Linked DNA regions of Homo sapiens: regions 1, 2 and 4 are each reported to be linked to region 3. Evidence: microRNA targets listed by miRTarBase, many of them from high-throughput screens and not tested one by one. Region 3 holds a microRNA gene; each other region holds the end of a gene's coding sequence.
What was found. Region 3 holds the annotated microRNA hsa-miR-5002-3p (UGACUGCCUCACUGACCACUU, at 2,898-2,918, shown strand). A microRNA usually pairs through its seed, bases 2 to 8, with sites in the 3' UTR of a target mRNA and lowers its output. Matches are read on the target gene's strand: a 7mer-m8 pairs with bases 2 to 8, a 7mer-A1 pairs with bases 2 to 7 and ends in A, and an 8mer does both.

Region 1: the mRNA of HES2 is a reported target of hsa-miR-5002-3p. Seed matches in the 3' UTR shown: 7mer-A1 at 5,621-5,627.
Region 2: miRTarBase lists ZBTB5 as a target of hsa-miR-5002-3p. Seed matches in the 3' UTR shown: 7mer-A1 at 3,293-3,299, 7mer-A1 at 2,983-2,989 and 7mer-A1 at 1,779-1,785.
Region 4: the mRNA of EREG is a reported target of hsa-miR-5002-3p. Seed matches in the 3' UTR shown: 7mer-A1 at 3,759-3,765.

What each region holds. Positions count from the first base shown.
Region 1 is chr1:6,414,378-6,422,211 of GRCh38, reverse strand. It overlaps HES2 (hes family bHLH transcription factor 2), which reads left to right and starts at 2,293. Exons shown (of 4, transcript NM_019089.5): 1 at 2,293-2,436; 2 at 2,510-2,605; 3 at 2,872-2,971; 4 at 3,059-6,980. The coding sequence starts at 2,392. The coding sequence ends at 3,339. RefSeq lists enhancers at 7,354-7,593, 7,118-7,617, 7,618-7,834.
Region 2 is chr9:37,436,982-37,444,703 of GRCh38, forward strand. It overlaps ZBTB5 (zinc finger and BTB domain containing 5), which reads right to left. Exons shown (of 2, transcript NM_014872.3): 2 at 1,121-5,574. The coding sequence starts at 5,570. The coding sequence ends at 3,537. GRHPR (glyoxylate and hydroxypyruvate reductase) reads left to right here. Exons shown (of 9, transcript NM_012203.2): 9 at 1-9. Among named protein-coding and RNA genes, the nearest start is that of GRHPR, 18 kb to the left of the region's middle.
Region 3 is chr3:124,130,091-124,137,924 of GRCh38, forward strand. MIR5002 (microRNA 5002) reads left to right here and starts at 2,839; the gene lies at 2,839-2,935. All of the region lies in intron 1 of KALRN (kalirin RhoGEF kinase), which reads left to right.
Region 4 is chr4:74,382,462-74,390,295 of GRCh38, reverse strand. It overlaps EREG (epiregulin), which reads right to left. Exons shown (of 5, transcript NM_001432.3): 4 at 7,502-7,651; 5 at 1,547-5,569. The coding sequence ends at 5,488. Among named protein-coding and RNA genes, the nearest start is that of EREG, 21 kb to the right of the region's middle.

The DNA of each region.
Region 1 (7,834 bases), not on the chromosome of region 3:
CAGGCTGGTCTCGAATTCCTGACCTCAAGTAATCTGCCCACCTTGGTCTCTCAAAGTGCTGAGATTACAGGCATGAGCCACCACGCCCAGCCTTGTTTTGTTTTTTTAAAGCATTTTGCCTGAGATGACACAGATGGGAAGTGGCAAAGCTTTCACTCCCTGGCTGAGCCTTCTGGGCTCTTCTTTCCTCTCCACCCAAGGTTCCTTCTGCCCACAGCACCCCTAGAGTCTCCCACCCTCCAGCTATCAGCTTAGGGATTCTCTCCCCAGGAGGGCTTCTCTCACCCCTCTGCTGGGCTCACCCCAGCCCACCCCAGGTTTCTCCTCAACCCAAGGGCCAGGGCACTTCCCAAGAATAGGGACCAGGGGTGGAGTGTATCCTTACTGTATCCTAGGTGGTCCCAGTTCCCCTAAAGCCTGCACCCGACATTTGCCCACCTAGCTGTCTTTAACGTTCCTCTGATTCCAGACCACTCCTTCCAAGTAACCAGCAAAACCTGAAAATCCTTGAGTTGAAGAGAACTGTGGGTTACTTGGTTAAAGTCCTTTACCCAATGGGAGAGTAGAGGAAGAAATATTTTTAACTGGGGGTAACTGGCAATGGAAATGGTGTTTGCTCCCCTGCCATTCAGTCTTCAAATGGTGGTCCGCAAACCTGGAGGGGGATGTTCTAAGGGGAGCCTCCTCCTTCAGCCTTTTTCTCCCAGGAGCTAGGGTCAGTCCCTCCCCAAGATGCAGATGCTGCAGGCGGACTTGTGGGTGCAGACCTGAGTCAGCCAAGCTAAGTCGCTTGGCCTGGGGATGAGAGGGAAAAGATCCACAGAGTTTTTTGAGCTCTTAAAGAACAATTAATTGTCTTAGGGGAGGCCTATGGAGTCAAACTGGCCTCAACCACGGAGAACAAGGTCTCAGGTTCCTCCAAGCCCTGCTGGGCCAAATCTGTTGAAGGATTTATTCTTACTTGTTAGGTCTTTTATGAGGGTTAATGCAGGTTAGCGAGCCTTAAAGCGTTAAGCCCTGAGCTTGGCACACAGTAAGTGTCCATGAAAGGTGGCCTACATTCCTTCCCATGCCACAGATAGGTATGGGTGGCCTGGGCTCCCCTGGCCCAGGCTTCTCCGGGCCCCTCAGTGTGTTCGCTGGCCTTCTTCCACCCTGCGGCGAGAACCCTGAAGGAGGGAGACGTGGGGCTAGCGGCAGGGGTGGAGCTCGGAAGTGGGGTTCGGGGGACAGGGGGTTCATCCAACACCCTGGACAGAGCCCTCCTTGGCCCCGCCCCATAGGGGAACTCCTCCTGGCTGGCTCTGTGGATCCCTCCAGTCATCTCTCTGCCCGGCAGTTCGCAGTGTGGTTCGCGGGCGTGGCCGTTGCCCCGCCAGCCGGTCGGGGGAGGGGAGCCCGGAGCAGATGGGCGGGGGACGCCAGCCAGTTTGCCGCAGCAACGGCCACGCGGCGCGAAGGCGGTCCTGGGCGGGCCACTGGGGCCCGCACCCAAAACTGTCCTGCCCGCGCGTCACATGAGCCCTGACTGTCTTGCGGGCGAGAACCCGGACCCCTAGCCGGTGGGAATGAAAACGAGCTCCGAGGGCTCCAGGGCTGCCTCTGCTTCTCTAGGATTCCGTTTCCCCACCCAAAGCCTGGAGTGGGGTAACCAAAAGACTCTTAACTAGGCAAGCCGCCGAAGGGTTCTACGGGCTCCTTAGAGCCGGGCGTCCAGCGACTGGGGCCCTTGTCCAGGCTCGGCCTGTTCCCAGCGTCGAGGACTGGAGCAAGTCACGACCTTTCTCCGGAACTCGGATTTCCCGTCCAGCTCAGCCCTTCACCCGATAAAGCAGCTGGGGGTGCAAGTCCCTCCCGCTGCTGTCCCTCATGGGAGCTCCCGTAACCGCTGGGTCCCCTGCTGCGGCCCAGGGCGGGGCTCAGAGAAGACGCTGAACCCGAGCCTGGGGAATGAATGAAGGGCAGCATTGGAGAGGAGGGACCGTAGCTCCAGTCAGGCAAGGCCTGGCCCCACCTGGCCCTCCTGCCCTCGGGGTCACGCAGCGAAGGCCCCCGATGGCGCCTTTACCACTCTCCCGCAGGTGCTCGGGGAAAACTGGGGGCCGCCACCCCGCGGTAGACAGGACGCAAAGGCGGGGAGCGGGATCCCCGGGGGCGTCGCGGTCTCCCCTCCCGGCTCCACCCTGCGCAGGAACAAAGGCAGGAGGTGGGACCAGCGGGCGGCCGGACTCCGCGGGGCGGGGCGGGGCGGGCGAGCCGCTCCCTTAAAGCTCGGCCGCGGGCGGGGCGCGCACTCGTCTGGCACCAGCCCGGGCCGCGCCCGGGACCTCATTTCGGACCTCGGTTTCCCTTTGCGTGGGGCTCGCAGCTGCCACCGCTTCCCCGCGGAGCATGGGGCTGCCTCGCCGGGCAGGGGACGCGGCGGAGCTGCGCAAGGTGGGTACCGGGGACTGGGGGCGGGGCTGGGGACTCCGGGGACCCGTCTAACCACCGCGCCGCCCGTCCGCAGAGCCTGAAGCCGCTGCTGGAGAAGCGCCGGCGCGCGCGCATCAACCAGAGCCTGAGCCAGCTTAAGGGGCTCATCCTGCCGCTGCTGGGCCGGGAGGTGAGCGCGCCCGGGCGGAGGGCAGAGGGTCCTGGGGCGCGGAGCGGGGGCAGGGGGACGGGGTGCTCCTGCGGGAGGAACCCACCAGGGGGTTCCGCGCGGCGCCCGAGGCGGAGCCTGGGTGGGGTGGGCGCGTCGGAGCGGACCCCCAGCAGGCCACGGCGCGCCCCACACCCAGCTCCCGACTAGAGCGAGGGTGCGCACGGTAGCCGGCCAAAGTTCTGTCTTGGTGGTTCTCTGTCGCTCTTCCTCGTGGCCGGGCGCAGAACTCCAACTGCTCGAAGCTAGAGAAGGCAGACGTCCTGGAAATGACCGTGCGCTTCCTGCAGGAGCTGCCTGCGTCCTCATGGCCCACGGCAGCGCCCCGTGAGTGAGCCCTCCCTGCCCTGCCGCGCGCTCTGCACCCCGCACCCGGCACCCTACCCCGCGCCTCACGCGGCTCTCCGCCCGCAGTGCCTTGCGACAGCTACCGCGAGGGCTACAGCGCCTGTGTGGCGCGCCTGGCCCGCGTGCTGCCCGCCTGCCGTGTCCTGGAGCCCGCCGTGAGCGCGCGCCTGCTGGAGCACCTGTGGCGGAGAGCGGCCAGCGCCACCCTGGACGGCGGGCGCGCTGGGGATTCCAGTGGCCCGTCTGCCCCCGCCCCAGCGCCCGCGTCTGCCCCAGAGCCCGCATCCGCTCCGGTGCCCTCGCCGCCCTCGCCTCCCTGCGGCCCTGGCCTCTGGCGGCCGTGGTAGCCCCTCGGCCGATCCACAGACCCTGCCGACTGCTTGGGACCTTGGGGCACTGGACAGGTTGAAGCTCTTGGTGGCGGCTGCTGTTCCCATCATTAGGGGCCAGCCCAGTACCCACACCCAGGCCGGAAGCCGGCTGTTTGTGACTGGCGTGGCAGACTGAAAGCCCTGGGGCTGGGGCTCGGCTCAGGGAATAAAAGGAGCGTCCCTGCTTCACCCCCAACTTGGCTGGAGAAGAAAGGACAAGAGGCAGCAGGGTGAAGAAGAAGCCCCCCATCCCAGCTGGTGGAGATAGTTCTGGAACTGGACCCCGCAGCTGCGTGGGCAGCCGACACACCCACCCCAGCACTGGCACCAGACCAGAGCCAGAGCCAGGACCTGGGCAAAGTGCAGCCGTGCACCCTGCCTGGTCACTGCTCTCCCAGCCCTGCCTGGGCCTACCTCCTGCCCAGCTCTGCTTGGGACCCTCTGGGCATGCAGCAGCAGTAGCCTAAGGGCTCTGGTCACTTCCAGGGCTCTACAGGGCAGCAGAGCAGAGCAAAAGGGTGCATATGCTGGGAGCTGTCACCTCCACTCCTAGGCTTTTCTGCCTAGAGCAGAATTATAGGGGCAGTATACATCCAGGGGTCTGTGCGGTGGGGCTGGGGGATTCCTTAAGTGACTTTGGGAAGGATTTGTTTTCCCGAGCATCAATTTCACACCTGGGCATTGCACCCCAGGCTATGCAGTCTTTCAGTGTGAGGAAGGGGCAGAACAAGAATGAGGCGGCCCCGTGGCCTCAAGGAAGCTTGTGGCTTTGGAGGATCTGACTCCAGCAGAGTCTGTGCCAATGTGGGGTGAGCAGGGCCCCTGCCATGGAGCAGCAGGAATTTGAGGGATGGAGCAGGTTAAAGAATGGGAAACATCTTCACTTGTTTTTTTTTCTTGCAAACTACTCCCTGCTACTCATTGAGACTGGTTACTGGAAGCAACTTGTTAAGATTTTTCTTTCTGGGCGGGCGCGGTGGCTCACGCCTGTAATCCCAGCACTTTGGGAGGCCAAGGCGGGTGGATCACCTGAGGTCAGGAGTTCGAGACCAGCTTAGCCAATATGGTGAAACCCCGTCTCTACTAAAAATACAAAAATTAGCCGGGTGTGGTGGCATGTGCCAGCTACTCGGGAGGCTGAGGCAAGAGAATCACTTGAACCTCGGAGGCTGAAGTTGCAGTGAGCCAAGATTGAGCCATTGCTCTCCAGCCTGGGTGACACAGCAAGACTCTGTCTCAAAAAAAATTTTTTATTTCTTTCTTTTCCATGGAGGCCTAGAGTCCCTGTGAAGGCTAGGAAGGGGCTGCTGATCCCAGGAGTGCCCACGAGGAGTGGGGGGCACTGTTGGCCCATAATCAGGCAAACACCCATCATTTCATGGGGGATTCATGAAATCATAGTCAGGCAAACACCCGTCATTTCATGGCTAAGCATTTGCAGAAGGTGGAGGATTCTCCCCCGAGTCCCCAAATCAGCAGCCTGTGCTAGGGACCAGAGCACCGGGGGCAAGAAGACAGAACCAATGTGGGAGTGGGGATGGTCACTAAATCTGACTGTGCCACACAAGCCCATGATGACCTTGGCACTGGTTTGGGTGGCAGGATATGAAGGAAGCTGTAGGCATTATTGAAAAAATCATTGTTCAGCCAACAGGGTGAGGCTCCCAGCAAGGCCGTGCCATCTTCCCACCTCCCTGTGCCCAGAGGGTTAGACTGTAAGCTCCCGGAGGGCGAGGCTGGGGCTGAGCGTGCCTCCACGTCCCCAAGGCACAGGGTGCACAGTGGGTGCTCACTGAATATAGTGGACTAGTGAGCAGAGGATGAGAGGACTACCCTGTAATGAGCCTTGGACAGTCTGGCATTTGCCTTAACTCCCACTCCCATGCCCTGGGATCACTGTTGGATATTTACTCCATGAGGACAAATACTGGGGAGGTGTGGAGAGGAGGGAGGGCAGGTTCCTCTTACTTTCACCCATTGCTGAGAATGAGCGCCTGTTGGCACTGCCTTTGTGAGCCTCCGGGAGCAGGTAACCTGCGGCCCAAGCCCGCCTAGGACTCCACATCAGGCAGGCACAGGACTGGCCCCTTGTCCTCATAAAAACTCTCAGTACAGCTTAAACTCTGTAAGATCTAACCAGCCAGGAGGACCCTCGCTTCCTCTCCGCCATGCTTGCCACCTCTTGCTTCTGAGAGTCCATCTCAGTTCGCAGTTCTGTGACTTGCATTGACCTGGCTCCAATCAAGCTACAACTCAAGCAGTCACGGGGAGAAGGATTGTAGATGGGCCAGTGACTCACAGGGTCAGGCACTCGGGGGAGCCTGAGTCAGGAGGTCAGTGGGCCCTGGAAGGGAGGGGGCAAGCCTGGGTGGGTAAGGTTCTGGGCCCCAGGCAAGAAGGCAGAGTTTCTCCGCAGGGGTGTGTGCAAGAGCTAGCTGCGCAGAAGGTCTCCGCTGGCTCTCCAAGCCGGGCTTGTGAAATAGGAACGCCAACATCCTCCTCCACAGGCAGTGGCAGGCACCTCCTCCTCAGGTGCCCCCCAAGCCCTATCTGATGGGCAAAGGTGAACGCAGGGCGGTGGGCTTTTCCTGTGCAGAGGGAGACTGATTCAAAGGGTCATTTATGACCTTTCACAAGTCCCACATCCTGCCCAATGGCCAGGTCTTGGGATGCTGTTGCAAGATGGTTCTGTGACTCCATGTGACTGTCTGATGATTGCCCCAGCTGGGGAAAAGGCTCCCATGTCTCTTTCTCATAAAACCAGTGGGCAAGGCCGGGCGCAGTGGCTCACGTCTGTAATGCCAGCACTTCGGGAGACCAAGGTGGGCGGATCACCTGAGGTCAGGAGTTCAAGACCAGCCTGACCAACATGGTGAAACCCCGTCTCTACAAAAATATGGAAATTAGCTGGGCATGACGGCGGGTGCCTGTAACCCCAGCTACTTGGGAGGCTGAGGAGGGATAATCAGTTGAACCCAGGAGGTGGAGGTTGCAGTGAGCCGAGATCGCGCCACTGCACTCCAGCCTGGGTGACAGAGCAAGACTCCATCTCAAAAACAAACAAACAAAAAACTAGCGGGTGAAATGATTCAGTGACCTAAGGACAGCCAGAGCACTAAGCTGCTGGGAACCCATCTGTGCTGAAATGTAGATTTCCCAGGAAACTCAGGCTTGGGACAGGCGCCTACCTGCTCCTCGGGCACCAGGTGATTAGGAGAGGTCGAATCTCATTTCCACGTGAGTGAGGATAAAGACTGGGCTGCCAAGGAGGACTCCTCATAAACATTGACAAATTGCTCTGCCCCGCCTGTGATCCCAGACGACTCCTGCAGTCTGGGATCCTGAGTGTCCTGTGGGTTCATCTCGGATGGGCGCTGCATAAACAGCCTGCAGGGAACGTCTGGGAGAACCAGCTTCACAACAGATATAATAAGGAAGAAGTTTGAAATATTGCAAGAATTGCGAAAGTGTGACACACAGATACAAAGTGGGCACATGCTCGTGGGAAAATGTTGCCAATAGACTTGCTTGACTCTGGAGTTACCCCGAACCTTCAATTTGTTTAAAAAAAAAAAAAGGCAATATCTTGACGTGCAATAAAGTGAACTGCAATAAAATGGGGTGTGCCTGTACTTGTTTTGAGACAGGGTCTTGCTCTGTCTGGAGTGTAGTGGTGCAATAATGGCTCACTACAGCCTTGAGTTCCTGGGCTCAAGCCGTCCTCCCACCTCAGCCTCCTGACTAGCTGGGACTACAGGCGCACGCTGCCACGCCCGGCTAATTTTTTTATTTTTTGTAGAGATGCCCTGAGGTCTTGCTACATTGCCCATGCTGGTCTTGAACTCCTGGGCTCAAGCGATCCTCCCCCACTTCAGCCTCCTAAAATGCTGGAATTACAGGTATGAGCCACCTCGCCCAGCCTGCCTGTACTTTAAAAAAAAATTCCAGGTTTCTAAAGCCATTGTAGAGAGGAGCTAACCCAGCCAATGATGTTGTTTCTGCTAGCTTAACTTCTTGTCTGAGCCTCCTTCGAGTGTGGATGGATCTCTGGGGGCTGAGTGGGAGTGCCTGCGTGTGTGTAGGTGTGCATGTGCGTGTGTTTGTGTGTCCCTGTGTAACCGTGTGGCTGTGGCTGCCCTTCAGAGAGCTGCCCGGGCATGCAGTATCAGGGAGAAGGCAGCCACACACCGAGGCTTCCCAGTGAGTAACTAGTTTCACCTGGGGTTTTCAAAGGCTCTGATGAAGCCCCGGGCGCTTAAAGCAGCTGTAAGGCTCAATAATGGTTTCAGGATCGTGAGAACGGATCTAGAGAACACGCCCCACACACGTGGTGTCTTGTTACCCGAGGTCCATTGGGGGGCAGCAGGGAGCAGGGGCTCGGCAGCTGGTCCAGGACCAGGCGCAGGAATGAGGGGTTCCCTGTCCTGGGGGTGAGGCCTGAAGGAAGAAGATTCCAGGCTGAATACGTGTC
Region 2 (7,722 bases), not on the chromosome of region 3:
TCTCTGAGAGACCGTCTTGGCCTGTAAATGGGGAAGCTAACAAGTGGATATGGCTGGGCATGGTGACGCACCCCTATAGTCCCAGCAACTCAGGAGGCTGAGCGGGAAGGATCCTTTGAGGCCAGTTCAAGGCTGCAGTGTGCTATAACCACTCTTTTTAAATCGCCACTACACTTAACCTGGGCAATGTAGCAAGATACCGTTTCCTGCAGTGTGCTATGATCACTCTTTAAATCACCACTACACTTAACCTGGGCAATGTAGCAAGACACCGTTTCAAAAAAAACTTTAAAAATACAAAGAGCATGTTTCAAAGTCACAGCATCCAATGATCTGCCTGGCTCTGCTTCCCACCCCAGCCCTCAGCCCTGGGCATTTTCCTTATTGGAACGTGTCCAAACCACCTTACCCCTCATCTTCTCTGCCCAGATTCCTTCACTTGTCCCTCACCAAGGACGGGACAAACAGAACCCAGTTGTGACCATGGCACTTGAATCTTGATACCTAGACCATCAGGAAAATTAAGGAGCACTTCCAGAAAAGGAGTTAACTGGAAGAAATGAGAACTAGGTAAGGACGTAACTCTTATTTTGGTCAGAACGATTAGAGGTAGGTGGGTTTAATTTTAAAATTAGTTTCAGCACCTACACATATTGTTCCCTTTGCCCATTCTGTCCCCCCAGCCCCTCCCTGCCCCCAGGTGGATTTTTTTTTTTTTTAATCACCACCTTACCCACTTCTCTCCAAGGTCAGGCCACAGCACTGCCATTGCCAATGCCTTGCTCTGTGCTCAAGGAATCAGCTTCCAGCTCTTCCCAGCAGCCAAGCCAAACTGGCAGATGGAGTTTCCAACTTGGGAGGCAGGTCCAGGGAGCAGCACAAGATTACGCAGGCCCTCAGAGAGCAACTGGGTAGACTGAAAAGCAAAATCTCATGCATGTGCGTAGCTCAAAGACAGAAAAGGCGGGGGAAGGCAGAAGGGAATGATTTGAGAGGAACGACCAATTAACTGTTAATAGAAGGTTTGGTTTAAAACAAAGTACTAGTCAAAGAAGGGCTGGCAAAGAGATATTACCCTCTTTGGTTTCAACCTTAATAACGTAAAGAAAAAGAACACATATTTAGAGGCATGAATATGACAAATTTTTTATTTCAAAAATCTCAAGTTGTAACCAGCATAGCACCACTGACATGGATGCCTTGATAGAACTCCTTGATAGAACTTTATGATCTGTTCACCAGAAAAGATTCTACATGATCACGCCAGACTATAATTAAGGCTAACCAATCAAAATTCAGGTACCCAAAACCAGTTATAATCCAGGTAGAAACTACAGATCATAGGAACCCTGGGACTGGTTTTCCAGGGAACCCTGGAATTATTTTTTAAGTGCTACAGCATGTACAAGGACACTGGCCCACAAGCTTGCTTCTCACACGTAGAAACTGACAGACTAAGAGGTAGATGAGAGATTCCAGGTTCCATCTAGCAGTGGAGAGGCAGGGCTCCAGCATGTATCAGAGATAAGCCCCAAAAGCAAAGTCCACTTATGCTTCAGCAGAGGTAAGCGGGCAGGCTCCTGGCACCACCTCCTCCAAATGGAAGGGAAGGAGGGCTGCACCGCTCTGCCTGTGTCACTGGCTCCTCTCCCTGGGTCCAGGCAGGGCCTCTCATTTTCTCCAGGCTAACCCACTGTGTCCCAAGGTTAATCTCACAAGACACTGGTCCCTACATCATGTAAAGGGTGGATGGGGAGCCTCCTAACACCATGTCAACATGACTGCTAACAAGGAGCCACACACACAACTGAATTTCACAGGACCTCATATCCTCCAATGGGCTCTTTCCCACATCTACTCGAAAGGAATCGTGGGTTTCCCTTTGGGCTTTTCTTCCTGGGAATCAGTCCATGGGAGATGCCAAGCGCCCCTGGAACATGAAATTATCCACACATGTGTAACTGCACACTCTAGATTAACAGGAGAGAAAACACGCTCATTTTTGTTTCCAGCTACACATACTTAGCTTTCTAAACACAAAAACTGAATAATTTATCTGATTTATGAATGATGGTTTGGTATGTCTAAGAAAGCTATATAAAACATAAAATGAACTCATGTTCATGCATGAATTAAACTGACTTCATGAGTTCTAGGGAGACGCATTAACCTGTGCTGTTCCCCTGGACGCACACTTGGCCTCATACAGGTGCCACTAACAGCCCTGATGGCAGTGTCAGAGGACAGCAAGGTGAGGCTGGGGAAGTGAGGCTGTAGGGCCCAGAGAGGCCCTAGTGCCTCCAACAGTCTCAGATGCTACTTGATTACTTCTATGCTATGGGCTGCTAACTCTTACATAGCCTAGAAAATATTTACCCATGAACACTACCATGTTTGGATTTCAAACAACTTTAAACATTTGGTATCAGATTGGGGGAGCAACAAATAATAAAATTTAGGGTCTGTACTGTTAAAAGTATAGTATATAACAGTAATAAAACCTGTGTGGGGCATTTTTGGTTAATCTGTCGTCGAAAACGGTAATCTAAACCTGGGAGAGTTGCTATATGGGGAGGGGAGAGTGAAGAAATGGAGAACAGGCTTGTCCTCGGGTAGGATGTGTCAGCCTAGACTGGCCCTCAACATCTGGACGGAGCAACAGGTAAATGTGCCATGGAAGACCCCACAAAACATGACTCCACATCAGCAGAACAAAGACAAACACAAGTCTTTTCTGACTTCCTAACATGGAACTGTAACATCTGTAATACAAGTTGGTTAAAATACTGCTCAAACAGCACATAGGGAAACAATACCTTGTCACTCTCTACAAGTACACACTCCATTTACAATTTGGTTTTTAAACCAGAAAAAACTGTTAAAACATCTATCCAACAGTGATGTATTCAAAAGTATATACATCTAATAGTCCAAGAGAATGCTCACTCTGGACCCAGTGTCAGCACCAAAGTGCAGTGTTTATGACTGCAAATCAGGTAAAAATAAAAAATACAGTACTTTGAGGCCTAGGACTAGCTCATGATACACTTTAAAGCATTTGTGGCAGACAGGTGTGTCCTCAAAGGCCTTCCTTTAAGACAGGCACCAAATCACCACTGGTTACACATAAGTGCATTTTGCATCACTATACAGGGATATAATACTCCCATCAGAAGGTATAGGAAATTTAAATGCTACACAGTTTTACAAAAATTGCTAAAAAATTTTTTTTGCACTTCAATTTTTAAATTTTTAAATGTGCCACTTTTAATATCAATTACAAACTACTTTCTGACTGCATTACTCAACCCCAAGGAAGCACCTGGTTTCAGGGATTGCATCCCTTTCCCAAGACGTGCACTTCACTCAGAAATGCAGCAGCACAAATACTACATGTTAGTTCTCCGGTTATTAGTTGCTAAACTGTTTAAGAGCCACTGGGCAGCTGGAAGCCTCGAACCCAAAGGCATTAACTGCTTACCAAAAGAAATTCAGTCTGACAACTGGCCTCAGCGTTGTCTTGTAAGGACAAACAGCTAGAGCAAAGTGCTGGGAAGATTGCTGCTCTGCCAGCGCAGGCAGGTAGTCTTTGAGTGCTTATACAGGTGGCTGGACTGACTAAACCTCTTGCCACACTTCAGGCAGGCGTAAGGCTTTTCACCTGTGTGAACACGGATGTGCTTCTTGCAATCTGTCAAAGTCAGAAAAGTTTTGCAGCAGATTTTGCAGGCATACTTGCGAGCTCCCTCTACAACCAAAACATTGTGCTCTGATAAGGCCTTCTTGCACTTTGACAGAACATCTGCAGATGCCCTGGTCAACTGTGGAGGGCCAGGCTGGGAAGGATGGCCATTTTCAAATGAGGACGTAGCTCCATTCATCATTAGCTGAGAACTGGTAGAGTTTTCTGGGATCTGTGAGCTCCTGACGGAAGTTACAACTGGCATTTTGGGAGCTATGCGGCGGTAGTAAGGAAAGTTACTGGCTCCTCCCCTTGGGGAACCTATCATTACCCTGGAGAAGGAGGAGTGGAGGCCCAAACCAGACCTGGAAAAGTCCATCCCAAACTGTTCTCCTCCTTGGTAGCCTGAAGTCTGCACACACGGCAGGCCCATCACCTCCTGCATAGGCCTGACGAAGTGGGAGTCTGCAGGTTCACTAAATGGGTTCTCTACATGGGAGCCAGGGGCAGAGGAGGGCCCACCTGCAGGCCCAGCCTCTGGACTCAACAAATAGGGGGCCTCACTCTCCAGCCTGCAGTCACTAGTGGTGTTTGGAATATTATCATCATTGTTCTGATTTGCAGTAAAGTTATTTCCTCTGCTCTTGTTAAGAAAATTCGAAATACTAAAAGTGGACTTATGCTCTAGGTTATTTGTGACTTCCAAAATATGGATATCACCTACCCTGTCTGTGCTAGACTGGGGATCTGAAAAACTCCGATCACTGCTTTCAGGGCTGAGGTCTATCTTCTCGGCACTGACCACAACTCCTTCCACTTCCACAGACTCGCTGCCTTCTGCTTGTGAGGTCACATCGCTCACTTCATCCTGAGGCTCAGGTGAGCTCAGGGGCTCAGATTTAACCACCACTCTCATGTGCTCCTTCTCACCAAGGCCAACCTCAGGGTTTTCACACTGAAAACTACTTTTCTCAGGTGCAGCTTCCTGATCAAAACTAGTCTCAACCTGAGTTGCACGAGAGGCCATGGACAACTGTGCCATGTTGCCAGCACTGTTATCAGACTGGCTGGGCACCTGGGCATCTTCTTGAGTGCCAAAAGACTGATCAAACATGATCGCACTATCTTCCTGGTTATCAGTCATTCCATCAGCTTTAGGATTATCCACAATTTTCAGAGAATCTGGTGAAAAGAACTCCTCCCGAGAATGAACCCCTGAAGGCCCATTCTCCGGTGTAACATCTGAAATGGCAGACTCATCTATGGAGGGTCGGAGGCGCTGCCTGGCCCGCTCCTCTGCAGACTGCTTGCGCTTATGAAGGCGTCTCATGGGGAAGGGCGTGCGCTGATCCAGGTTACTGCGCATGGAAGAGCTCATGGGGGCTGGCTGCTCCTCGCCATTCTGGCTGGAATTGAGGGCTGAGCTCACGATGCTTAGTCCCAGCTGCTGTAGCATAAAGGAGCGCTGCATGCGGGCGCTCTGCTCCTGAACGCGCTCACTGGGGGGAGACATGGGCAGCGTCCTTGTCGTTAAGTAATGTTTACATGCCTTAACAACAGAGTTCAAATGCAGGTGAGAGGCTGCCAATAAGACATCCATTACATTGCTCTCCCCCAGCATGAGGGTGGAGGTATACATCATGTCAATCAGTGCAGCAAAGGCCTCTGCTGTCACCACCTCGCTATCCAGCTGGATCATGTTCATGGTCTGATCTCCTTCTGCCACTGAGAACAGGGCTCGGAAATGCGTGCTGCATGCTGCCAGCACGGAGCGGTGGGCTTTAAAGTGTCTATTCCCCACTACAATGACACAATCACAGAGCTGGCCATGAAGTCTCTGGTAGTTCAGCTGCTGGAAGATTTGTTCAAAGTGACCAGGAAAATCCATGATCCTACAGAAAAACAAAGAAAGAAAATGTTAAGACCTAGAAAAGCTTCAAAGTCAGAACACAAAGGGTATGATGAAAAGAGTGGAATGGATGGCCAAGCTTGGACCTTTGAAGCCCGTGATATCTCTGATAATGGGCACATACACTAAGAGCTTGTCATATAAGAAGCAAATGGCAATTCAGCCATCAGCCCAGGAGGCATGCACACATGTGGGCCTAGCTACCGACAGGCTCCCCTTTACTCTTCATATGAGCCATGTATAACACTAAGGGTCTAAATTAGTAAAGACCAGTGTGTGAGTGATGGCATATCTATCCCACAGAAGTTTGTTAGAATTCTGCATTCCCTAAGGATGAGGAATGAATACCAAGAAATTCCAAAGTCTTAGGAACCCTAAATAAGTGAAAAGGGCAAATCAATATTAGTGTGGAAGATTTCCAGTTATAGATGGTAGCAGATTGCACACACGCATTTGCCCCGTGCTTTTTCCTGAAACCCCACTAAAATGACACGAAGCCCGGCATGGAGGCTCATGCCTGTAATCCCAGCACTTTGGGAGGCTGAGACGGGCAGATCACCTGAGGTCAGGAGTTCAAGACGAGCCTGACCAACATGATGAAACCCTGTCTCTACTAAAAATACAAAAAATTAGCCAGGCATGGTGGTGCATGCTTGTAATCCCAGGTACTCGGGAGGCTGAGGAGGCGGAGGTTGCAGTGAGCTGAGATCACACCACTGCACTCCCAGCCTGGGCGACAGAGTGAGACTTCATCTCAAAGGAAAAAAAAAAAAAACACTAAAGTTTTTGTTTAAACTTTAAAGGTGTAAACCCACAAGGAAAAAGAGAATGAGAAGGCCTTCAATAGCATTTTGGAAGCTGGGGAGAGGTAAATGAGTGCTAACTGACTCAGCACACCCCAAAAGCGAAAATCCTAAACTGGGCAGCGGATAAAACAACCTAACATATATAAATCTCATTCCCAAAGGCCAAGGAACTGGTTGCCCTTGCCAGGGGAAATGGAATGAAGGTGTGGCTAAGGCAGGAGGCCTGGCTGAAAATCTATCCAATTAAAAAAAACAAAAACAAAAAAACACCAGGATGTGGTGGCGCATGCCTGTAATCCTATAGCACTTTTGGAGGCTGAGGTGGGAGGATTGCCTGAGCTTAGGAGTTTGAGACAAGCCTGGGCAACAAGGTGAAACCCTGTCTCTACCAAAAATACAAAAAATTAGCCGGGCATGCTGGTATGTGCCTTCAGCTACTCAGGAGGCTGAAGGGGGAGGATCACTTGAGCCTGGGAGGCAGAGGCTGCAGTGAGCAGAGATCGCACTGCTGCACTCCAACCTGGGTGACAGAGTGAAACCTGTCTCAAAAAAAAATTAGCCGAGCATGGTGGCGTGCACCTGTGGTCCCAGCTACTTGGGAGGCTGAGGTGGGAGGATCACTTGAGCCTGGGAAGTCAAGGCTTCTGTGAACTGTCACTGGGCCACTGCACTCCAGCCTAAGCAACAGAGCAAGGCCCTGTCTCAGAAAATAAAATAAAAATAAGTGAATGAATAAGAGAAGGAATTAATCAGGTCCAATATCTTGACTACAGAAAGAGAAAAGGAAGAATACAGAGGGTGAAAATGATGTAAGAAATGGTTTTTTGTTTTGTTTTTGAGACAGAGTTTCGCTCTGTTCCCCCAGGCTGGAGTACAGTGGCGCAATGTCGGCTCACTGCAACCTCCGCCTCCCGGGTTCAAGTGATTCTCCTGCCTCAGCCTCCTGACGAGCTGGGATTATAGGTGCACGCCACCACACCCGGCTAATTTTTGTATTTTTAGTAGAGACAGGGGTTTTACCTTGTTGGTCAGGCTGGTTTTGAACTCCTGACCTCAGGTGATCCGCCCACCCTGGCATCCCAAAGTGCTGGGATTACAGGCATGAGCCACTGCGCCCGGCCAAGAAATGGTATTTTTTAAATTTTGAGAACTGAAGAAATTTGCTTATTAAGACTAAAAAGGCCCAACAAGTACTCAAAATATGAAGATACAAATCCCCACACTAGGCTGACATCAGGAATAAAATTGGCATTCGTCTTTGCCACAGCAGCACTAAAAGCTAGAAGATGACAGTTCCTTCAAAATTATCCAAGAAAATGATTTCC
Region 3 (7,834 bases):
AATAGCCTTTCTAGTGGAAAGCCCATGTGACCAGAACTTATTGACCTATGGTAGTGTATAAATTAAAGTTCCTGATTGGGCCGTCTTTAATATTTTCCAGGACAGAGATTAGAGGGAGGTGCTCTGGGCTGCTGATACCTTAGTGATATCTACCCATGAAGGAGGAGAGAGTGAAATCCTTAGATATTTAGTATATCTCTGAATATGTTAAATGTATATTCAGAGCTCTCTGAACTTCTCAGTGTAGTCTGCAATGGTTAGGTAGTTTACTATTTTCAAGAAGTAAAATTATTAGATTTTTTTTAAAAACTGCTTAAAGACTAACATCAGTTATCTGGAAACATACATGGGGTACCGTCTTTTCCAGTGATACTTTAAAAATGACTATTTACCAATAATATCAAGTTTTGTTGAGACTATGGAGTTCCTGGAACTTACTTTGCTGGTGGGAGTGTATATTTATACAGCACTTTAAAGAGAATTTTCATGATATCTATTATGCACACCCCATGAACCCATAATTCTACACCTGGATATACCCAATAGATTTGAACTCCATCTAAAAACAAAAACAAAAGCATGTACAAGAATGTTCATATCAGCTTTATTCATAACAGCCTCAAACTGGAAACAACCAAAATGTTGTTTCCAACAACAGTAGAATGGATAAATACATTGTATATCAACGCCACAGAATGTTATACAGAAAAGATAAAGAGCGCACTATTGGCACTCTAATAGTATAGAAGCATCTTAGAAGATTGCGAAAGGAAGCCAGACATAAGAGAATACATATTGTATTCTCCCACTTATATGACCAAACAAACCTAATGTGTGGGACAGAGGTCAGAATAATAGCTATTCTTGACTGGAAGGGGGCATGAGGGAGCCTTCTGGGTAGCTGTAAATGTTCTAAATCTTGGTCTGGTGATTATATTAGTGTATAACATATGCAGAAATTCACCCAGCTGTACCCTTATGATTTGTATACTTTGTGCAAGTTATGCTTTAATGAAAAAGCAAAGAAAAGGAAGAGAGATTGCTGAAGTGTGATGCTGAGTAATTTGCCACAGACCCCAGTGTCTTCTATATGTCTGAAGGTTAACAGATAATATTCTTAAGGTTCTTGCCCCTGAAACTTCTTGTGAATTTTAGCATATTTTTCCTGCTTCCAACTTGCTCTGGAAAGAACTGGAGTCTGTGACTCAGGAGTCCTCTGCTATAGTCTCTCAGCCCCAGTTACCAACTGTGTTTACTTACAGGTCAGTTCTTCAAGGAGTATATGAAATAGACCTTCCAGTCACTCCTCTACCTTTGACCCATGGGGTCTGGTGAACATAAAGTGAGGTATAAGCTATCAAGGAGTTTTTGAAAAACATTAAAAGGGCCACCCAAATACTAAGAAGTAAGATTGTACTTGAACTTGATGAAATTGATGGCAGCTACTGATTAGAATCACATAAGGTGCTGTTGACAAAGACAATGCTGTGACTTTAAAGAATTGGGCAGTGATTTATGAATCATCATGGTACTTGGCTCAGGGCTCTCAGTGGCAGCTGTGACATCAGGGTGTAGGAACACATGAGGTGACTTGTGTGTTGGGAAATTGTGGTGATTACAGAAGCAGCCACTGCCGGGAGGTCAGCATCACATGCTTAGAATGATGGTTCTTTTCCAGGTGAAGCCCTTGGACTACTGTGGCCAAGTGAACAGTGCCCTGTTTAGACAACCCAGGCCCATTTCTGGCTTTTCCACCAAATAATTATGTGACACAAGGCAATCTGTTCGCTTCCCTGGACCTTAGTTCCTCCTCTGTAAAATGGGGGAAATGATGTCATAAGTCCCTCTGAGCTCTAACTTCCTCCATGTCTTCCCCACATAGCCAGTTCTCACTTTTTTTCCGTATGTGTATTATATGGTCAGTTTTAAATCTGGAACAGTCTTCTTTTCATGTGGCTGTTTTTTACAAGTAGATCTTTAAGAAGACAACTCAGCTGCCAAGAATCATGTTGTCTCCTAACAAACAATATCCATTATTCTGGAATATTGATTATCCATCATTTCAACAACCCAGTATCTCTTTCCATCATTAGTGCTGATGACTGGGTGCTGCCTGAATTACACAACCACTTTCCTATCCCTCCAGCCTCCTCTACCCTGTTGGAGCCCCAGGTGGACATGTCTTGATGAGCAAAGCTGTGCATTAGTAATGCTTAGTTTGGGGCCACATTTTCCTAAGGTTTGTGAGGGAAGCTCAATCATCACTTCAAGTGCCCAGAGCCTAGAACCCGAGCCGGTGAGAACACTGATGGGAGGAGAAGAAACTTAGTGAGAGGGAGCCTCCATCACTGGGAAGTGAGCACTGCAGCACCGCACAACACATACTCCTGGACTTCTTTCCTGGCCTGAGCTTTTCAAGGCTGAATGAATGTGCAAAGCCAGGAAGAAAATACCTTACTCTCCTCTGGTCAGCCTGGGCAGAGATCTTCTTTTACACACGGCAGGACTTGGGGAAGGAAGAGGAGGATGATGAGGCCAGGAGAAGGTGACTTTGTTGTGTCTGGGAAGGAACCAGGGCCTTGTAACTCAGAGAATTGGGGAAAAGCTTTGTGGCACCTTCATTTTTCTGGCTCCTTCATGGCTGTTTTGGCAGGGATTTTTGCCCCGTCTCACATTCCAAGTTCTTTCATGAGAGCTTTGTGGGTCAGAGGCAGGGAACTAGACCAGACCTTAACCTCTGAAGACACAAATTCTCCCCTGGCAGCCCCTGTCTCTTTGGGAGTTGTTCTGGTTCCTCCTGCTGGGGCATTTACACTGTTTTCTCTGAAGTCAAATCCATCTTCCTCTCTGTCCTCTGGAATTTGGTTTCTGAGGCACTTAGTAGGTGATAGCATGACTGACTGCCTCACTGACCACTTCCAGATGAGGGTTACTCTCCTCACAGCACGGCCTTGAGGCAGCTCATGCCAGGGATGCTGCCTGTGTTCCAACTGTGGATCTGCATTCTGGGAACAGCCAATTGATCTGATGGTGCGGGGTTACTTTTTATTTTTTAAATTTAAAAATTAAAAAAAATATATCCTTAGTGGTGATTAAAACTTCAGAACTGTTTTTGAATACTAATTTGGTTTTTGGAAACAGCCCAACTCCATTCGGGAAAATCTGGGGAAGAGGGAATCAAATCTGGGCAAGCTGGGTGACAGTATTTTAGTTTAAAAAACAAAACAACAACCTTCCTCTCTCCCCCACCTCAAAAAAACACAACACAAGGTTTGTCTATTAAGTAATGAAACAGTTTGCTTGTTTTTAAATTTAGAACGACAGTCGAGGCTGTTTTCAGAAGTTCAAAAATGTTTAGTGTCTGCTAGAATAAGCACAGAGCCCCGGAGGTAGCTAACAAGGACAGCCCTCATTTCTGTCTTCAATTCAGGAGGCCACAGGTCAGGATCTGTGGCATTGTGGAGGGCCCACCCAGGGCACTGCCTGTGATTGCAGACCCACTCCTGTGCCTTATGGGGAGGGAGGCGCTAGAGGAATCTGGGGCTATTGCCAAGTCCCCTATCGTTCACATGTTCCTGGAGAAGGAGTTTGGATACTGACAAATCCTGCATCAGGGAGGGCTACCTGAGTCCAGAGATCTCATCCTGAGCCTGTCTGCTTGCCTGGAACCACAGGCAAAAAGAGTTTCAGGGCAGCCGGAATAGGACAACATGTTCCTAGTATAACTAAAATGGCCTTTATCAAGTTGCTTTAAAGAGGTGTTCTTTGACTGCTGAAAGAAATCATAGATGACACAAACAAATGGAAACACATCCCATGCTCATGGATGGGTAGAATCAATATTGTGAAAATGACCATACTGCCAAAAGCAAGCTACAAATTCAATGCAATCCCCATCAAAATACCACCATCGTTCCTCACACAGTTAGAAAAATCAATTCTAAAATTCATTTGGAACCAAAAAGAGAGCCCATGGAGCCAAAGCAAGACTAAGCAAAAAGATTAAATCTGGAGGTATCACACTACCTGATTTCAAACTATACTATAAGGCTATAGTCACCAAAACAGCGTGATACTGGCATAAAAATAGGCACATAGACCAATGGAACAGAATAGAGAACCCAGAAATAAACCCAAATACTTACAACCAACTGATCTTTGACAAAGCAAACAAAAACATAAAGTAGGGAAAGGACACCCTTTTCAACAAATGGTGCTGGTATAATTGACTACCCACATGTAGAAGAATGAAACTGGATCCTCATCTCTCACCTTATACAAAAATCAACTCAAGGTGGATTAAAGACTTAAGACCTGAAACTATAAAAATTCTAGAAGACAGCATTTGAAAAACCCTTCTAGACATTGGCTTAGGCAAGGATTTCATAGCCGAAAACCCAAAAGCAAATGCAATAAAAACAAAGATAAATATCTGGGACCTAATTAAACTAAAGAGCTTTTGCATGGCAAAAGGAACAGTCAGCAGAGTAAACAGACAACCCACTGAGTGGGAGAAAATCTTCACAATTTATACATTTGACAAAGGACTAATATCCAGAATCTACAACGGACTCAGACAAATCAGTAAGAAAAAAACAAACAATTACATCAAAAAGTGGGTTAAGGACATGAATAGACGATTCTCAAAAGAAGATACACAAATGGCCGACAAACATATGAAAAAATGCTCAACATCACTAATGATCAGGGAAATGCAAATCAAAACCATAGTGCAATACCACCTTACTCCTGCAAGAATGGCCATAATAAGAAAACAAAAAAACAGTAGACATTGGCGTGGATGCGGTGATCAGGGAACACTTCTACACTGCTGGTGTGAATGTAAACTAGTACAGCCACTGTGGAAAATAGTGTGGAGATTCCTTAAGGAACTAAAAGTGGAACCACCATTTGATCCAGCAATGCCACTACTGGGTATCTACCCAGAGGAAAAGAAGTCATTACTTGAAAAAGATACTTGCACACGCATGGTTATAGCAGCACAGTTCACAATTGCAAAATTGTGGAACCAACCCAAATGCCCATCAATCAATGAGTGGATAAAGAAAATGTGGTATATACATATGATGGAATACTACTCAGCCCTAAAAAGGAATGAATTAACAGCATTTGCAATGACCTGGATGAGATTGGAGACTATTATTCTAAGTGAAGTAACTCAGGAGTGGAAAACCAAGCATCGTGTGTTCTCACTGATATGTGGGAGCTAAGCTATGAGGACACAAAGGCATAAGAATGATACAGTGGACTTTGGAGGCTTGTGGGGAAGAGTGGGAGGGGGGCAAGGGATAAAAGATTATAGATATGGTGCAGGGTGTACTGCTTGGGTGATGGGTGCACCAGGATCTCACAAATCACCACTAAAGAACTTACACATGTAACCAAATACCACCTGTACCCCGATAACTTATGGAAAATAAAATTTAAAAAATAGGTGTTCTTTGAAAGGGTGTGGGGGTGTTAGAGGTCTGGGGTCTGCACTGTGAGCTGTCTTATAGGGAAAGTCTGGTTCCAAGGGACCCAGCCTGTTTTTAAGGACAGCGAATCAAGATGCTGGGATTATGGAGATGGCTGCTGAAGAGAACTCTTGCCCCAAACTATGAACAGTCATGAAGTTTTCTTTCTTGGTGGGGAAGGGTCCTTGATGAGGGACCAGTGTAGGGGACATTCTAAACACAGCAGCCCAGCTGCTCAACTCAGAGTCAACCAGGGGCCCATTCTGGAGAAAGAAGGGAAGTGATGAACACTGGGCATCTGCTATATACTGGGCATTTCCTTATATCATTTTATGTAATTCTCAATAGTCCTTCAAGGGACTGTTACATTCCCCATTCTACAGATGAGAAAATGGAGGCACAGATGGTGCAGCTGCTTGTCCTCATCTCCTTACTGCAGGATCCCTTCTCACTTGCCTGCATACCCTGTTACAGTCTTTGCACTCAGTATATTGCATTGTGATGACTTCCCCACACCTAGAAATTCTAATGAAATTGGTCTGGGATGGGGCCCAGACTGGTATTATTTTAAAAGCTCCCCAGCTTATTTTAATTGCAGCCAGGGCTAAGAACTGATAGTTTAGATTATGGGTTTTTCATTTTTTTTTTTATATCCCCAGGGCCTAAGTCAGTGGAACTCAAACTTGAGCACACATCAGAATAATCTGGAGGACTTGTTAAAACACAAGTTGTTTGCCCTACCTTCAGCGTTTCTGATTCAGCAGGTCTACAGTGGGCCCAAGAATTTATACTTCTCACAAGTTCCCAGGTGATGCTGATGCTGCTGGTCTGGGGACCTTGCTATGAGAGCCCCTGATCCTTTAGAACGAGAGGAGGCACTTGTTCATTACATGCTGACTGAATTTTACCAAATTGCCAAGGTCCCCCCCCCATTGATTGGAATCAGGATTTGAATACTGGCCTACCAGGTAGCAAATAGGCTGGCTCTAGGGGAGCCTGGGTGGTAGAGTGAGGTGGGCCTGCCTGTCTACTTAACCTCTGGGAGGAGAGTAGAGTTTGTTGGCCTTTAGGGTCTCCTCACAGGGAGAAACAATAACCAGTTTCTTGCCAGGAAACCTAGTGGCTGTTAAAGGCCCAGAAATTTTGGGTAGAGGTTTGAGGCAGCCAGAAGATCCTAGAATCCTAATCCAGGACACAGATTCCTAGTGCAGAGTGTGACCTGGGAAAAGATGGTCATGGATGTGCATGTACCAGAGTGTTTGTTACAAAGCTGGTGACACTGCTCTTTAAAGTTACTTCTTGTTTTCGCACTACAGGAAATTATGGAGGCACTAGTGATGGAAACAGGGCGGAGTGATGCCAGAGGTGGGGAGCGAGGCCCTGAGCAGACCCGGATGATTAGGGAACAGGGTTGATGGGGCAGAGCAGCTGTGAGAGTTTGGGCACCTGGAAAGAATGTTTGAGGCCACAGCAGGAATGGTGTGTTTGGGAGAGGAGGAAGAGGCTATGCTGATGAATATAGCAGAGGACATGGGGAGTCTGGATTCTCATTCTGGAGGGACGTGCTTGTTACCTGGACACTGGAGTCGCCGGTTTTGCTGAACAATGCATTTAAAAAATGAAACCTCAAAACAAATATTTACTTACGTGTACAACACTGTTCTAGATGCTGTAGGGCTGCCAAAAACTGGTTAATGAGAAAAAGCAGAGTGAGGTAAGTGTTAAGTGATTGTTGCAGGTGGCAAGTCCATAAGAGTGGGGAGAAGAGTCCAGTTGGCTGTGTGGCTGGGAAGGCTGTGAGCCTGCTGGTCCTGGCAGGATGAGTGAGTGTGAGATGTGCTGTGTCAATGGGGTGAGCAAAGGTGTAGGGTGGGGCTCTAATGAGGGACAGCTCATTATGGGAGCAATGGAGCATTTGTGCAGAGGATGTAAGGATGTGGTTGAAAAGGGGAAATGAATGAATGCCACCTTGTCCTTGTTTGCTGTTCCCTCTCTCTCTCCAAGTGTGAGGGCTGGGACTAACTTGAGGATGCAAGCCTCCTGACTAGCAGGGCTGCTGGAACTGACTACTTCTTAAAAGAGTTTCTCCAAGGAGTCCTTACACGCAAATTTTATGTTATTTTTACCCTTTCCAGAAATACTGGAGGCTGGAGGAAGAGGAGGAAAGCTCTCTCTCCTTTTAGAAATGGGACTACTGAGGTCTAGAGAAGGGAAAAGGCTAAAAATGGTGCTCTGGGTGTGGGTCGGATGCAGGGAGATGGCTGAAATGGCCATCTGAATGTAATAGTGTCCTCTGAGGGCAGGGGTGAAGGGCACAGTTTTCTCTGAACAGCATTGGGATATGGATGCTTGACCCT
Region 4 (7,834 bases), not on the chromosome of region 3:
TTGAAATAGTAACTATATTGAAGAAACGTTTATAGGGGAATATTAGTTATTGATCGTGTCACCTTTGAATGCCTAGTGAATATGTAAGTGGAGATGTTAGGTAATCGGACACAGATATCTGGAACTCATGGCAAATATCTAGACTGGGAGAAATCAGTATATAGACAGCAATTAAAGATATGAAACTGTATGAAATGAAGTAGGGAGTGGCTATATGGAGAGAAAAATTACAATATTGAGCTCTGGGGCACTCTATTTTTGATAGGTCCATGGTAGAGAATAGGGAAATATTGAGGAAGATCTAGCTAAAGACTGAGAAGCAGGTAGAAAAGCAGATGAGTGTGATATCCTGGAAACCAAGAGAAAAAAAAGTGTTTCTAAGAGTTCTCTTCCTTAATCTTCTGGATTCTCAGACCTTGAACAAAATCAGTGTAATGATTCAATGACAATTCAAAGATTCTATTTTACAAGAATTTCTATTTCTCCCAAGAAAACTCTAAACTAGATCTGAGACTAACTCCTTATAATCTTCCTCTGCCTCTGACATGGCCCGAACATCAGTGGAATTAGGAGTGAGAAGACCTGAATTCTCATGACACCTCCACCTATTGCCAGTGGTGTGACCCAGGACAATTGCTTAACCTCCCTGTCAAAGGGTTGAAGCCATAGGTCCCTTCCCCAGCTGCAAGCTAATGAAGGATCCAAGGAGCTAAGGAATGGAGCAAGTACTCTGTAGGCTGCTGAATAAGTATACCAAGGAAGCCATCCATCACTGTGATGAAGGGTGGGAAGAATCAAGCTTGTCTGCTCTAAAGGCTCAGGGGAGCCAAGCCTCTTTGCAGAGGCTGAGAGAATCATAAGGCACCATTCTGGCTGATGAATCTTTTCAAATGCTACTTCCCAATAGGATATCTATTCTTTTTAGAAATACTCTTTTAAAATACTCTTTAAAATATTATTTTAAAAAATACTAACCCCAGGCTGGGCATGGTGGCTCATGCCTGTAATCCCAGCACTTTGGGAGGCGGAGGCGGGAAGATCACAAGGTCATGAGTTTGAGACCAGTCTGGCCAACATGGTGAAACCCTGTCTCTACTAAAAATACAAAAATTAGCCGGGCATGGTGGCACGTGACTGTAGTCCTAGCTACCCGGGAGGCTGAGGCAGGAGAATCGCTTGAACCCAGGAGGCGGAGGTTGTGGTGAGCCGAGATCGTGCCGCTGCATTCCTGCCTGGGCAATAGAGTGAGACTCCATCTCAAAATCAATCAATCAATCAATCAATCAATCAATCCTAACTCCTAGGATTTTTAAATACCAACACCTAGAATTTTATAACTAATGTGGCTCCTTCTATTACAAGAAATTCTTCACTATGCTGGCTATAAAACGTGATACATTTATAGAATGTTTTCCCAAATTAACACCATTGAGTCATTATGTCTACACACATTATATCCCTGTCACTGCTTTTAAACCCTTTAATGTATTGTGGGGAAAAAATTGCAAAAGAAAAAAAAAGAATGAGGCTGCATTGTCAGTGAAGATTTTGAATGCAAGATGTTCAATGCATTTTTATTTATTTCAATTTTTTTCAATTCCCAAGAAAAATAAATAAAAATTAATAATATCTTGTAAATTATCTATTTTCTCCTTCAATATCTTAAGGTACACAATTATCAAAGCTGATATTGAACACAAACAAATTGATACAATTCAGTAATCCGATAACATTCATAGTCAAATAAGTTACTTCAAATTGCATGCAATACAACTTTATGTTCCATAGCATCTTTAATAAAAACCGTTTACCAAAATGGCTCTTCAAACTTAAAAAGTGCAATTACAGAGTGCAAAATAAAAAGAAAATACATTATATTACATTTAACATCATCAAATTTGAATAACAGATATTTAAATGAAATTACTCTTTTTAAAAACATTAAAATATACACCAGAAATACTGTTTGTACAAGTCATTACTCCCCCTTCTCCCATATGAACAAGAATTTTTTAACGGTCAGAATATATTGGGCATCAAATTAAAAACTTTTTTTTCAAAAGTCTACAGAATGGATATTGGAGCAAAAATTACAAAGTGGGTCAGATACAGGTTTTTAAAAACTGCATTACTGAATTTAACAAAAGTCAGACACTAGAATCATATATTTGCTGCATAAAAGTTGATTTGATACCTGGTGGTGATTGAATTTAGTCTCAAAGACTCATAAATAAAAATCTGACTTAAGACGTAGTCATACCAGTATACCAATTCTCCCATCACTTTGACTTTCGGCAGAGAGATTAGAGCAAAAAATATTCAGGAGAACAGTGGAGTTACATTGTATTATGTATGTTTAATATAATATCAATTTTAAGGTTAAGGTTAAGGAAATCTTAATTTTAAGGTTAAACCTTGAGTACTAGTTATAGAACTTAATATTCCTGGTTAAAGAGTAAGTTAACTGGGTTATTATGTGGCCTTGGTTGAAGACCATAAATTATGCATTTATGCATTTGTGGTTGCTTTGGTTCTCAATACATTGAATATGCATAGCCCCTTCTAGAAATATATATAGTGAGAAATCTGTAAAATGGGGGAGTTAGACTAAGTGTGAACTAAAATCTTCCCACTGTGTACAGGACACATCAGCTGAGAGCAAATCAGTTTTTATGTTTACTCAGCACCATCCTCACTAAAACTATTATTTTTGTCTTATTTTCACCCATAAAAAGTAATGTGGGTCATACTTTATTATTTAATATGCATTTACAAAGATCTAACTATTTTAGGGATTAGCTTTTTTAAGCATTCTTAAAGATGAAAAATACAAAAATGACTTGTTTTTATGAATTGACATGCTTAAGATAAACTGACAAACCAAGATTGAGATGCTTACAATAAATCTTTTGTAAATGAAATAAATGGATTGCAGCTGATTTATTGAAAAGTCAATAGATTTTTTTGAAACAGCCAAGATCACTGAAAATATTCAGACTCTCCTCACATCTAGTAAGCGTTAATAAATACAGTTGTACCTTGGTATCCACAGGGGACTGATTCCCAGATCGCCCCCCTGCACATACTAAAATCGGGCACAGATGTTCAAGTCACTTATATAAAAGGGCATAGTGCTTGCATATAACCTATTCACATCCTCCTGTATACTTAAATCATCTTTACATTACTTGTAATACCTAATGTAAATGCTACGTGCGGTGGCTCACACCTGTAATCCCAGCAGTTTGGGAGGCTGTGGAGGGTGGATCTCAAGGTTAGGAGATTGAGACCATCCTGGCCAACATGGTGAAACCCCGCCTCTACTAAAAATACAAAAATTAGCTGGGCATGGTGGCATGCGCCTGTAGTCCCAGCTGCTCAGGAGGCTGAGGCAGGAGGATCTCTTGAACCCGGGAGGTGAGGTTGCAGTGAGCCGAGATCGTGCCACTGCACTCCAACCTGGGCAACAGAGCGAGACTCCATCTCAAAAAGAAAAAAAAAAAAGTAAATAGTTGTTATAATGTATTTTTTGTTGTTGTTGTATTATTTTTTAAGCATTTTCCGTCCTTGGTTGGTTGAATCCACAGATGTGGAACTAACCACAGAGGGCCAACTGTAAGTAGAGTATTTAAAATGTGTTCTTACATATTTTGACTTCAGCTGTATTAAATAGGAAACAGAAATAACTGTTTAGATCTAATTGATTTTTCTTTTCTCTTGTTTTTAAGTTTTATATAAATGGTTAGCAGAGCACCAAATGACTGCAATTCTATGATCCATTAAGGTCATGTATACATACATGTTTGTATATGAATATATATACAATATGTATATGACCATATATATTTACTTGTTTTTGTCTGTTTATTTTCCTAATAGTAAGGGCCAGGGCCAGGACTTTAGATGACAGTCGTGTGATTGCACCAGGGTATATAATGCATGGATACACATGGAGACAAGTCCTGGCACCTGGTGCTCCAGAGGTCAGCCATGGCTTATTATGCCTTCGTTTACCCTAGCACATGCCAGGATAAACGTAGAGGAAGAACAGATCCTCCCTGACCTGGTATGTGATCCAGGGAGACTCTACTCAAAGGTTTAGCATTCGATGAAGGAGCCTCCCATAAAATCCAAAAGTGGTGGCAGCAGTGGCTCCTTATGCAATAGCCCAAAAATACTCCTATTAACTCTCTGAGACCTATGGGCTCAGAGTGCAGAAGAAATCTTTGTCTCTTCCAAAAAATAAACAAATGTCAGGAAAATGAGCCCTAGTTTTCATCTCAGCCTCCACAGGAAGGTGTGTTTAAGTTTCTACATTTTAAAAGCTTTCAATTGAGATTTTTCATTTGGAAAAATACACCATATTAATTTTTAAGTTTTTTCCCATTTCCTGTGTCAAGATACAACTTTAAATACATAACTTTACATTCTAGAAGAAGCCATTTACTGAGCTGTATTAAAGTTAAAACTTCCTTGAATAAAAGATGAAATAACTGTATTTCCATCTTAAGACAACATGTAGAATTATTGTCTTCATATATTTTAAAATAATAATTAGTCCATCAAATTTTGGGCTGTGATTTAATGTTAGAATTCAGCAAAGCCCCTATAAAAAGAAATAGTCTAAAAATATTCTTAAAAAGCACAAATTTAGGCTTCAAGTGTGGACTTTTTTCTAATTGTCTGTTGAGCAATAATTACCTCACATAAATGTTGTAATATACAAAAAAGGAACATTGTGAAGCTATGAAATGCCCACTACTTAAATAAAAGATTACAGAAAATTGTTTTTCAATTCATTTTACATAGGCAGAATCTGGTAGATGAGTGACTAGTACCTGTAGGAGTCGTGAGTTGGCATAGGGAACTGTCCACTGCCCCTCATATAACAGAATTATAGCTGAGACCTGAGTGAAGAGACCATAGACTCCCCAGGGTTAGCTTGTTTCAAATGTGTAGTGTTTAACACAGGACCTATATTTGCTTCTCCCAAATTCTAATTGCATTATTGTTTTAATATATGATACCATGGTGCCAACTACATATCAAACCATGGTACAGTCAAACCAATTATCACTGATTTGAGGAACATAAAAAACATACTTACTAAATCGATTTGACTATATATATAGGCTTACAGAAATCTGTCATTTGCTAACAATTCTTGAGCTATGACCTGGGAATTGCTTACTTCTAAGCACTGTGCACCAGGCATATAAACTTTGAAGCTTTCAATGAAGCATTTAGCTCAGGAAATTACTTGTATAAAAATATCAATTTTCTTTTGATATTAAATATTTTCTGCACATTATACATTAGCAAATAGTCTGTCAAAAATAAAACAAAAATAAAAACATTTTTCAAGTACATTAAAATACAGTGTTATTGACCTAACACTTGACCCAACATAAATATTATTAATAAAATGGGAATATTAATATTAACCAGGCACACTGTTATCCCTGCCCATAAGTTTGATGGCGCCATTCAGACTTGCGGCAACTCTGGATCCCCTGAGGTAACTCTCTCATATTCCTTCTTTGGTTCTTTACTTTTTCGATTTCTGTACCTGGAAATATTCACAAACGAAACTGTTAGCACTGCAGTTAATAGCAAAGGAACAAGTGTGTTATATATGGACTCCAAAGGCACATTAGCATAGTGTTTCCAAAATGACAAAGTTGAACAGATTTAGGTTGGACAATGTTAAAAAAAAAAAAAAAAAGAGGGATGAAGAGGTGATGTGCTGTAGTCAAACAATTTTGGAATGAAATGATAAAATACACTTAAAGAGTTTCTCAAAGTCTTTAACGTGATCATGAATATTGTGAAATTCCAAGAGGCGTGTGGCCACATTTAAGTCTGAATTTTAGGTTTTCTTTTTCTGTCTCTCTTTCTTTTTCCTTCCTCCCTTCTAAGGAATGAATATTTACAAATCATGCTACATTAATACACTCTTTCCATCACATTGATATAATGCTATCACTAATCAAAATAAAAATAATATTTATCAGGCACTAATTTGGTGACCTACAATTTTCTAAGTGCTATACATGCATTATTTATTTTACTCTCACATTTGCTGTTACCATCCTCATCTTACAGATGAAGAAAGTGAAATACAAATGGGTTGTATATAATGTGCCCAAGGTCCAAGGTCTCATAGCTAGGATTCATAGATTTATCATAATTTAGAATCTTCTTTCATTTATTCATTAAGCTATTTTCCTAATATTTTTGAGTTTATTTTGTCCCTATTTTGGAAATAAGACATGTAGCTTTGAGGAAACCACATCATGTCTATGTTTACTGTAAGAATATGAATTAGAAAGAATTTGTTCTTCACTCTGGCATTTGTCAACTATATGAGCTGGGATATTTGAATGAACCTCTCTAAACCTCAGTGCCCCATCTATAAAGGAAAGGATTGTGGTCAAAGATTTGCAGGCATATTTCAGTTTTAATAATATTTAGTTCTGTCATGGCAACTTATTAGGAAGGCATTATTATTTGATGGATACTTAGAATCAAATGTGGACAAAATAAATTTAATATTATGAAAGTAGCACACTTTCAGACCTTCAAAATTGGAAGTGCACTACTTTCACAGAAAAATAAAAACGTAAATTCACCTTGAGTAATTTGTAACTGTTTCAAAATATGTTTCATGGAGACATTTTAAAGGGAACTGTTATTAATTAATTCACACTGTTCCCATCCTTTGCTCCTAACCCTTAAAAAAATGCCAAACTATACTTTCAATGTTCACTTTCTATTTTTCTGTTTTCAGCTTGTGACAATAATGCACATGAGGATGAGGTACGACTGTTTTGGGGGACTGACACAAACTATTTTTTAACAACCATTTTTTATAATTGTCTAGAAATAGTTCCACCAGTCTGCCTTAAACTGTAAGATAACCCAAGCTTCTAAGGTTATTAATTTACAAGGTTGTTTTTTATAAAATAAAAAATGTGACTTGAGGAATTAAATTCAGGTGGTTAACTATAACAGTAGCACCTATCCTATGATTTACTTTCACATGAAATATCATATTACATACTAAAAGCAACCACCCTATAACTAATGTAAGATAATAATTTCTGTCCATATTTGATAAAGAAGGGAATTGATACTCTCAATTTGACTTATGTAAGGTCACATAGGTAATAAGTATCAGAGCTGATAATAAAGTTCAATCCAGATGTTCTGCAGCAAAAACATATTTTTAAAAAATAATTTCAAGTTATTTCAGATTCGGGGGTACACATGCAGGTTTCTTAACAGGATATATTGTATGATGCTGAGATTAGGGGTACAGCTGATCCCATCACTCAGGTGTTGGGCATAATACTTAATAGTTTCTCAACTCTTGTAAATATCATTTGTACAGGTTTGATCTTATCTCTCTAATACTTTATCCATATTTTTACCCAGTTTATAGGTCTGCATTATGTAAAAGTAATTTGTAAAAGCAGAGTATAAAACCACACTGACTTACCATCTGCAGAAATAATATGTGGAACCGACGACTGTGATAAGAAACAAAATAATAAGAATCACGGTCAAAGCCACATATTCTTTGCTTAAAGGTTGGTGGACGGTTAAAAAGAAGTGTTCACATCGGACACCAGTATAACCCACTTCACACCTGAAGGAAAATACGGAAGAAAGAAAGATCAGTTACTTAAAAAGGAAATCATGGTTATGAATTAGTTTTATAAGGACTAACATCACACTGTAATGCAAGAAATCAACAAAATTTGCTAAAGATTGTAAAGAGGATTTCAAAGATTGAGTTAGACCAGTAATGATAAAAGGGCTCCACGTAGCT